Linked DNA regions of Homo sapiens: region 2 is linked to region 1. Evidence: fine-mapped expression QTL. A gene starts in region 1. The other region holds a variant in brackets. All regions are shown on one strand. Distances are between the middles of the regions.

Region 1 (5,380 bases):
AATGGCATGATCTCGGCTCACCGCAACCTCCACCTCCCAGGTTCAAGCAATTCTCCTGCCTCAGCCTCCCGAGTAGCTGGGATTACAGGCATGCGCCACCACGCCCGGCTAATTTTGTATTTTTAGCAGAGATGGGGTTTCTCCATGTTGGTCAGGCTGGTCTCGAACTCCTGACCTCAGGTGATCCACCTGCCTCAGCCTCCCAAAGTGTTGGGATTACAGGCATGAGCCACCGTGCCCGGCCCTAATGTGGGTTTTTAGGGTTCAAGAGAAGAATGTTTCTACTAGGGCATAATTATCTCTATCTTATCTTATATTTCCATTTGTTATTTTAAGAAGCTATTTTTTTTCTATCATTTTTCTTTCCCCTGTTATTGTAGAGGTCAGGCAAACTTAAAATTTAGTCCATTAGTCAACTTGAGGTGACCGTGAAGAAACTGTAGGATATTAAGACTCTAGACTTAGAAAACAGCAGACCTCAATAGCTACTATATGTTTTCCAAGAGGTGCAGCTCTTTCAGTCAGCTGATCTGATAAGCAGCATACTCAGGTACTGTTGCTCATGTCCAGGGACCCTACCATATCCTGTGGTTTTCAGGGTCCTTATATTCTGTGCTCTCTTGGCTCTGGCACCAGGCCTTTTCTGGTCCACTGTTTCTAACTCCTGGTAAAGTGTTGTTTTAAGGCAAAAAACATCTTTACGGGGAACCAGACATAAAAAGAGTTCCTGGAGGCCCTGCGTGGTAGCTCATGCCTGTAATCCCAGCACTTTGTGGGGCTGAGGCCGGTGGATCACTTGAGGTCAGGATTTCAAGACCAGCCTGGGCAACATGGTGAAACCACACCCCTCCACTTCTCTACTAAAAGTACAAAAAATTATCCGGGCGTGGTGGTGGGCACCTGTAAACCCAGCACTTCGGGGGGCCAAGGTGGGCGGATCACTTGAGGCCAGGAGTTGGAGACTAGCCTGGCCAACCAACATGGTGAAATCCCATCTCTACTAAAAATATGAAAATTAAGTGGTGGCTTGCGCCTGTAGTCCCAGCTACTGGGAAGGCCGAGGCACGAAAATCGCTTTAACCTGGGAGGCGGAGGTTGCAGTGAACCTAGATCGAGTCATTGCATTCCAGCCTGGGCGACAGAGCGAGACTCTGTCTCAAAAAAAAAAAAAAAAAGTTCCTGGAACCGTTTCTGCACATCACTGAAAAATGATAGCCTCTCCCCAAATATCCTAACTTAAAGGTGCTATTAGGAGAATCTTGCTGCCTGCTAATAATGGGGTGTCCATAATTACCCCATGACTTCAGTGAATTCTCGTGCCTGTTTCTCCCGATCTAAAATGGGTATATTTCATTTACTAAATTTACTTCTGAGTACTGTTGGGGAAAAGATCCCGGTGTTTGTTGAAGAATGCTAGATATAATGAAAGTTAAACACAGTTTAACAAATTAAAATTATTCCCTATTGCTCTGTAATATCTAATTGCACACTGCTCTACCCCAGACCATTGTATTATCTCCCCGCCCCCCCCCCCAGAATATCATGAAATGCAACATATTTGCTAAACCAGTTTTGGTGATTTAAAACAAGTTCCAAGCACAAGCTTCTTTCTTGTAATGGTCAAGTGGCCTACGAAACCAAAGCGCCAACTGAGAACGTTTTGCTGCTGCACTCTGAAATCCCAGCGAGAACGCAGGCAGCGATGGCAGTTCTGGAGCACCGGGTTCCACTTCTGCCTCTGACCGGCTTTGTGACTTCCACCACATTAGATCTGAGTTTCCTCCATGTAAAATGGGGCGGGAATGGAGGCTGGACCTGGGAGGTGTCGCTGATGATCGTCTCTGACTCGCTAAGTCGCGGAGTCACAAAAGTGGCGGAAAGCATGCCCTCACTTTTTGGGAAGAGTAGGACGAGGGGCGGGGCTGCAGCGAGACCCACCAGTCTCGCTTTCCAGGGCAGGCGGCGGCCAGGAGCTACAGCTGTGGGCTGCACTCCCGGCGTGGAGTCTCCTTCCTGCCCGCGCAGGCCCCGGCGCCCCAGCGAAACGCTCCGGCCGCTCCCCTCTCCCAACACTCTGGTTCCCGGGCCGCCTGCGGGGACGCGGTTGGCGGCGACACCGGAGGGGGGTGGGTCAGGAAGTGGGGGCGCGGCGGCCAGGAGCGGGCCCCCGGAGGCCGAGGGGTTCGGCGACGCGGAGGGAGGGAGAGTCTGGGCCGCGCGGGAGCCGCAGGGCGCCCTAGCCTTCGCAGAAACGATGGCGGAGGAAGAAGGTGATTGCCGCGGGGTCCAGCGCGCCAACGGCTGCCAGTGGTCTCGGGAAGGAGGGGCGGGGGCGCTGGAGGTCTGGGTTGGAGCTGCTGGTGGCCGCGGTCGCGGTGGCGGCCGCGCGGGCAGGGCGGGAAGGAGCGCGGCGCCCAGGAGAGGACTGCGGAGAAATTCAGGAGAGCGGAGCAAATGGCCCGAAGTTTTGTCGGCCGAATTGGGAAGCAAAGGTGGAGCTGAAAGTTGGGAATCCGTAGCAAGAGAGAAAGCTGTGCCGGGAGTGGTTGGGAAAGAGGGAGGGTCCTGATCAGATTCTTGGTGAAGTGGGAGGCGCAGTTTGGTTTCGAAGATCAGGTTTAGGTACTCAGTGCATATTTGGAATGCGATTTTTAAAGGGCTGTGGATATTGACAAACCCAGAGGCACAGGGGGCGAGGGAACATTCACCACGGGGATAAAGAGGCAGGGATTTGGGATAAACGTGGCAAGATTAATTGGGAATGGGCGAACACGCAGAAACTGAAGAAAGCCAAGTTCACTTAGGTTCAGGGGAAAATGGTAAAGAGCAGAGCCATCTAATTATTATAGTTTTGGGAGATGATGAGGCCAGGAGGCCTTTGAGGGTCAAAGTGGGTGAGCTGGAGAAAGGTTTCCATGCCGCCTTCAGGATCAATGCTAAGATAAGTAATTCATTCAGCAGTATTTTATTTATAGAAAATGATAAGTATGAGACAAAAATGGGAAGTTAGATGAAACTTATCGGTTAGTGATAAACAATACAAGGAATACTCATGGCATAGTAACTTCATGATAACCCCTACTAGTTTCAGGAAGTGAGAAGCAATTAGATTTTTGCATTCTGGTGGAAAACACAACTTTTTACCTTATGAGTGGAGCTGTGGATGTGATAGTAAATCGATCTAATTTAGACTCAAGCCCCCCTGCCTTTTTTTTTTTTGAAACGGAGTTTCGTTCTTGTTGCCCAGTCTAGAGTGCAAAGGCGCGATCTCGGTTCACCGCAACCTCCGCTTCCTGGATTCAAGCGATTCTCCTGCCTCAGCCTCCCTAGTAGCTGGGATTACAGGCATGCGCCATCACGCCCGGTTAATGTTATATTTTGAGTAGAGACGGGGTTTCTCCATGTTGGTCAGGCTGGTCTTGAACTTCTGACCTCAGGTGATCCGCCCACCTCGGCCTCCCAGAGTGCTGGGATTACAGGCGTGAGCCACGGGTCCAGCCGACTCAAGCCTTTCTGAATCAAGAGTGCAAGGAAGGAGTTTAAAGGATTCAGCGGAAAGCAATTTTTAAAAATTAAGCATAAGAAGTGTTTACTGATGTGTGACTTGCTGACCTGTCCCTATGCAGGCTTGGTTCATATTTGTTTCCATTGAGTTTTCAGAGTGTTAAAGCTGGTCTGAATTTAAGACATTCTAACTAAAAACAGCTTCAAAAACAAAGCTATTTGTCGTTGGTGAGAAAGAATGTAATTCCATTTGTTTACTTGGTTCTGTCTGTGGTTACAGTATATCATCATTTGAAATATTTCTTGATGTATTTTTCTTTTCTAATTGCAAATTTATGGGGGTAGGTTGATATACTAGCTTGTAGGTTCCTATGAGTACATTCATGCTTAACTTAAAGCATTAAAAAAGTTAAGACTGCATTAAAAAATCAGTACTACAATACTGAAAGTCTTTAATACATCATGCAAAATGAAAAATTATTTTAGACTATGGTTGTACTTAAATAGATCTGTGGAGCCAATATTAAAAGATTGTACCGTTTTGTAAATTTTACTTACGTGATGTAAAATGATAAATGGGCGGGGCATGATGGCTCATGCCTGTAGTCCCAGCACTTTGGGAGGCCAAGGCGAGTGGATCACTTGAAGTCAGAAGTTCGAGACCAGCCTGGCTAACACAGTGAAACCCCATCTCTACTAAAAATACAAAAATCAGCCGGGTGGAGTGGCAAGTGTCTGTAGTCCCAGCTACTCAGGAGGCTGAGATAGGAGAATCACTTGAACCCGGGAGGCGGAGGTTGCAGTGAGCCAAGATTGCACCATTGCACTCCAGCCTGGGTGACAGAGTGAGACTCCATCTAAAAAAAAATAAAATTAAGGCCGGGCAAGGTGGCTCACGCCTGTAATCCTAACACTTTGGGAGGCCAAGGTGGGCGGATCACGAGGTCAGGAGTTCGAGACCAGCCTGGCCAATATGGTGAAACCCTGTCTCTACTAAAAAATACAAAAGTTAGCCGGGCATGGTGGCGCATGCCTATAGTCCCAGCTACCCGGGAGGCTGAGGCAAGAGAATCGATGGAACCCAGGAGGCCGAGGTTGCAGTGAGACGAGATCGCCCCACTGCACTCCAGCCTGGGTGACAGAGTGAGACTCCCTCTCAAAAATAAAATAAATAAAATGATAAATGATTTTTGGTTGTAGAATTACATATAATTCAAAAGCAGTTAAATACATCTTACATGGGACAATTAATGGGTTGTAATTTATTAAAATATTGCTTTATTCAACACATTTCTAATTCCATAAATATGTGTATTCATACCCTATTAGATGCAAGGATATAATAGTCAACAATGAATGAGTAAATTTTCATTTATTATAATGCTAGTAATAATAATACATATAGCAAACCTGTCTGTCTATGTGCCAGGCATTCTGAGTGTTTTATGTTTATTTGTCACTCTATACTTTTTTTCCCCCAGAATCCGTATTATCTTTTGTTCGCTGTGTTAAAATTAGACTAAATAGTCTGTGTATTTTACTTGTATCCAGGTGTTCTCCGCGTCCCATCTTGCTTACCATTCACATTCACTTGGATCCTCTTCATTGTCCAAGTAAATACTCTGGGAATCTGGTCTTTAAAAAAATGTCTTCCTTGATGCAGTAGAGGGCCAGGGTGTTTATATTTATGCTTTCTGAACGCAATGTTAGAGCAAAGAAAGAAGTGACAACCTTGAGTAGAGCAGTATTAACATTTCACTTGGAAACTGCTATGTCTAGCCTGGATAGACATTTGAAAGTCTGTTTGTAGCCCTACTGTTTCATATGAAGATGACTGGACTGAAGTCTGAAATAGCAGGTTACTTTTGTGGATGTG
Region 2 (5,380 bases), 31 kb after region 1:
GAACGGAACTACTGAGTTCAGCTTCCTGGTCCTGGGCTGATGGAGTGGTTGCTGGGGTCCTTCTGCCCCACCTCTTACCTTATGATATGTGAATTTCTTGTTTGTCTTTTAGAAAGTTACCTTTCAAAAAAATTTTTTGGGATAATATTATATGAAAATAGGTCATCTTTAGAACAGGGATTCCCAACTCCCAGGCCACAGACCAGTACCCATCAGAGGCCTGTTAGGAACCTGGCCTCACAGCAGGAGGTGAGTGGCAGCAGCAGCAGCAGTGACAATGATGATGATGATGACGATGATGATGATGATGACAACTGCAGATTTATCTGTATTTACTGCCACTCCCCATTGCTTGCATTACTGCCTGAGCTCCGCCTCCTGTCAGATCAGCAGAGGCATTATATTCTCATAGGAGCACGAACCCTATTGTGAACTGCGCATTTGAGGGATCTAGGTTGTGTGCTCCTTATGAGAATCTAACTAATGCCTGATGATCTGAGGTGGAACAATTTCATCCCCAAACCATCTCCCCAACTCCCCTGTATTAGTCTGTTTTCACACTGCTGATAAAGAAATACCTAAGACTGGGAAATTTACAAAAGAAAAAGGTTTAATGGACTCAGTTCCTTGTGGCTGGAGAGGCCTCACAATCATGGCAGAAGGTGAAAGGCACGTCTCACATGGTAGCAGACAAGAGAAGAGAGCTTATGCAGAGAAACTCCTCTTTATAAAACTATCAGATCTTGTGAGACTTATTCACTATCACGAGAATAGCACGGGAAAGACTTGCCCCCATGATTCAATTACCTCCCACTGGCTCCCTCCCACAACACTTGGGAATTGTGGGAGCTACATTCAAGATTAGATTTGGGTGGGAACACAGCCAAACCATATCACCCCACATCCACGGATTGTCTTCCAGAAAACCAGTCCCTGGTGCCAAAAAGGTTGGGGGCTGCTGCTTTAGAAGATGTTGGGCACGGGAGTTCAATGTTGCAAAGAAATCAACATTGAGACAAAGGTCCCTCAGCAAGGCTAGTTTACTTTCTGCAGAAAGGGTGTACTCGGCAGCAGTCCAGCCACGAGAGCACACTGAACAAAGGAGTGGAGGACATTTATAACCTTTACATCCTGATGCAACCCCCTAGAGCTGTGTCCTGTTCCCATTGACTGGGATGGGACCTCACACTCTAAACTTAACTCGATTGGCGAATAATTTAAAACTTTCCTAAATAGGGAGAAGGGAAAGAGGACAAAGAAAAGAGGAAGTTAGTGATAAGAGGTCAGAGGGGTTTCCAAATAAGGAATGGCATGCATCCTAATTTGGGACTCATTTAGCCTTATCTCAACCTACCAGAACAAGTTGGAGCAGCCTTGGAATATACACATACAAACATTTAACCAGGGAATGATAAACCCTTTATGGATTAAGAAACTTTGAAGAAGAACTTCTCTATTCCCTACAGAAGACATCATGTTCATTAAATGGTATTGGGACAACCAAATCTGGAAAATAAATCCTTATTGCACGTACATTAAGATAAATTTCAGATGGATTAATGAGCTTAAACAATGAAATCAATAATTACTATATAAAAATATTGGTTCATGTTTTTTGTTTGTTTGTTTTTGACCAAGTCTTGCTCTGTAACCCAGGCTGTAGTGCAGTGGTGCAATCTCAGTTCACTGCAACCTCTCCCTAGTGGGTTCAAGTGATTCTCATGCCTCAGCCTCTTGAGTAGCTGGGACTACAGCCGTGCACCACCACAGCCAGCTAATTTTTGTATTTTTAGTAGAGATGGGGTTTCATCATGTTGGCCAGGCTGGTCTTGGACTCCTGGCCTCAAGTGATCCACCTGCCTTGGCCTCCCAAAGTCACTGTGCCTCGCGTGGTTCATGTTTTAAAAAATTATTTGTCATAGACAAAGTTGGAAACAAAGTGTATAACAATAGGAAATTGGTTAGATTATAGTAGATCTACACGATGGTGTGTCATGGTCATTAACTGTTCTTGAAGTATGTTTATTGACGTGTATCTTGGAAAGATGTTCATAATATATTGTTAAGTAAAAAATAGTTTGTTAGAGAATTAGAAAAGAGCTAAGATTTGCTATAATACTGAATGTTTACTAGGTTCTAGGCACTGCTAACTTCCTTGCAGCTTTTGTTTCATTTGACTCTCACATGTGATCCTGTTTTTGCATATATATGTGTATCTGTGTGTGTGTGTGTGTATATATATGCAAACCTATCTTCTATGAATGTATATGTGAATAACTATTTTAATGCTTTTTTAACAGCTTTATTGAGGTATAATTGACATAGAATGAACTGGACATATTTAGAGTGTCCAATTTGATCAATTTAGGCATTTGAATATACCCACAAAATCATCAACACAATCAATATAATAAACATATCCATCACTACCCAAAATTTCCTTTTTTTTTTTTTTTGAGACAGGATCTCACTCTGTCACCCAGGCTGGAGTGCAGTGGCGCAATCTCGGCTCACTGCAACCTCCACCTCCCAGGTTCAAGCAATTCTCCTGCCTCAGCCTCCTGAGTAGCTGGGGTTATAGACGTGCCACCATGCCTGGCTAATTTTTATGTTTTTAGTAGAGACTGGGTTTCACCATGTTGGCCAGGCTGGTCTCAAACTCCTGACCTCAAGTGATCTGCCTGCCTCAGCCTCCCAAAGTGCCGGGATTACAGGCGTGAGCCACTAAGCCCAGTCTCCAAAATTTCCTTTCTAATACCTCCCTCTTTTCTTTCTTTTCTTTTTTTTTTTTTGAGACAGAGTCTCACTCTGTTGCCCAGGCTGGAGTGCAGTGGCGTGATCTCGGCTCACTGCAAGCTCCGCCTCCTGGGTTCACGCCATTCTCCTGCCTCAGCCTCCCGAGTAGCTGGGACTACAGGCGCCCGCCACCGCGCCTGGCTATTTTTTTGTATTTTTGGTAGAGACGGGGTTACACTATGTTGGCCAGGATGGTCTCGATCTCTTGACCTCATGATCCACCCGCCTCAGCCTCCCAAAGTGCTGGCATTATAGGCGTGAGCCACCACGCCCGGGACCTCCCTCTTTTCTTACCCAACCACCACTACTATGCTGTTGTTCCCAGGAAACCTGTGTCTGGTTTCTTATTTATTTATTTATTTATTTTTTGAGACTGAGTCTCACTCTGTC[G/A]CCCAAGCTGGAGTGCAGTGGCATGATCTCGGCTCACTGCAGCCTCTGCCTCCCGGGTTCAAGCACTTCCTGCCTCAGCCTCCCAAGTAGCTGCGATTACAGGTGCGCACCACCACGGCCAGCTGATTTTTGTATTTTTAGTAGAGATGGGGTTTCACCATGTTGCCCAGGCTGATCTCGAACTCCTGGGCTCAAACGATTCAGACGCCTCAGCCTCCCAAAGAGCTGGGATTACAGGTGTGAGCAAGCATGCCCAGCATAATTTGCTTTCAGTCTCTATAGATTAGTTTGTGTTTTCTAGAATTATATATTAATGGAGTCATACAGCATATACTTTTTGGTGGTGGGGCTCCGGCTTTTTTTACTCAGCATAATTTTGGTATTCATGTATGTTGTTTATATTAATAGTTCATTCTTTTTTATCACTAAGTTCTATTACATAGTATGGATATATCATAGTGCATTTATTCAGATACTGATGGACATTTGGGTAGTTTCCAGTTTTGTGGGGACATATGCTTTCATTTCTTTTGGGTAGAATGGCTAGGTCATATGGCTGGTGTATATTTAACTTTTAAGATACTGCCAAACTGTTTTCTAAAGTGATCGTACCATTCTATTTTTCTATCAAAATTGTGTGAGAGTTCCATGTCGTCTATATTCTTGTATTTCCCTGATGATTAATGATATTGGGTACCTTTTCATGTGTTTATTGGTCATTCAAGTATTTTGTGAAATGTCTAAGTATTTTGCCCATTTTAAAAGCTTAGATTGCTGGGGGCAGGGTCTCACGCCTGTAATCCCAGCACTTTGGGAGGCTTAGGCAGGCGGATCATGAGGTTAAGAGATCGAGGAGATCATCCTGGCCAACATGGTGAAACCCCCTCTCTACTAAAAATACAAAAATTATCCGGACATGGTGGCACGCGCCTGTAGTCCCAGCTACTCAGGAGGCTGAGGCAGGAGAATGGTGTGAACCCAGGAGGGGGAAGTTGCAGTGAGCCGAGATTGTGTCACTGCACTCCAGCCTGGGTGACAGAGTGAGACTCCATCTCAAAAAAAAAAAAAAAAAAAAAATAGAAACCTTGTAGCCCACAGCCTCGCTAAATTCATTTATTAGTTTTAGTATTTTTTTACGATTTTTTTTTTTGTGTGATGGAGTCTCGCTCTGTCACCCAGGCTGGAGTGCAGCGACGTGATCTTGGCTCACTGCAAGCTCCGCCACCCCGGTTCACGCCATTCTCCTGCCTCAGCCTCCGGAGTAGCTGGGACTACAGGCGGTCGCCACCATGCCCGGCTAATTTTTTTGTATTTTTAATAGAGACAGGGTTTCACCATGTTAGCCAGGATGGTCTCGATTTCCTGACCTCGTGATCCGCCCACCTCGGCCTCCCAAAGTGCTGGGATTACAGGCGTGAGCCACAGTGCCCGGCTTTTGAAGATTCTTGAGGGTTTTCTATGTACACAGTATCTTCTGCAAAAAAAAAAAAAAACCTGACAGTTTTACTTTCCTTTGCAACTTGATTCCTTGTGTTTCTTTTCCTTATCGTACTGTACTGGCTAAGCTATGGCAGAAAATTTAACAATGTTGGCCTCTGAATGGATGAGATTATAGGTGTTTTAAGATTTTTCTTCTTTTTGTTTGTATACATTTTCTAATATTTCTTTAACAAACATATACTGCTTTTATAATAAAATATTTTTCAAAAAAGAATAAGTATGAAGAAGGGAAAACATGCAAAATACATTTAAGTTTAAAAAGCAGAATGTAAATTAATTGAAGAGTTTTGATTCTGTAAAATATTTATATAAGGGATAAATACTTGAATGGATTATAGGGCAACGGAGATCCTTGATTTTTTATAATAGTGATTAGTATTGTTACACATATTGACAAGAACAAAAATATTTAAGTGTAATTATTTTTTACCCTGTTTTTATCTCTTTCTTCCTAGGAAATTCTTTTGTTTTTGCTTAGCTACTGAACTGTTGTGCTAAACAGAAAATGGTCAAAATATAATTTTGAAGACTCACAGAGAGGGCTGCAGATGACTTGACATAAGAAAGTGCGGTGGCTCAAGCCTGTAATCCCAACACTTTGGGAGGTCGAGGCAGGTGGATCACGAGGTCAGGAGTTGAAGACCAGCCTGGCCAACATAGTGAAACCTCATCTCTACTAAAAATACAAAAAATT

The links. PIP is the estimated chance that this variant, and not a neighbour inherited with it, causes the effect.
Region 2: its variant is the best candidate, but not a certain one, in a credible set for the expression of DPY19L4 in whole blood (INTERVAL, PIP 0.78).

What each region holds. Positions count from the first base shown.
Region 1 is chr8:94,717,745-94,723,124 of GRCh38, forward strand. It overlaps DPY19L4 (dpy-19 like 4), which reads left to right and starts at 2,156. Exons shown (of 19, transcript NM_181787.3): 1 at 2,156-2,270. The coding sequence starts at 2,255. RefSeq lists an enhancer at 1,249-2,203 and a silencer at 1,964-2,283.
Region 2 is chr8:94,748,345-94,753,724 of GRCh38, forward strand. All of the region lies in intron 6 of DPY19L4 (dpy-19 like 4), which reads left to right. Among named protein-coding and RNA genes, the nearest start is that of DPY19L4, 31 kb to the left of the region's middle. The variant G/A (reference allele first, on the strand shown) is at 3,187.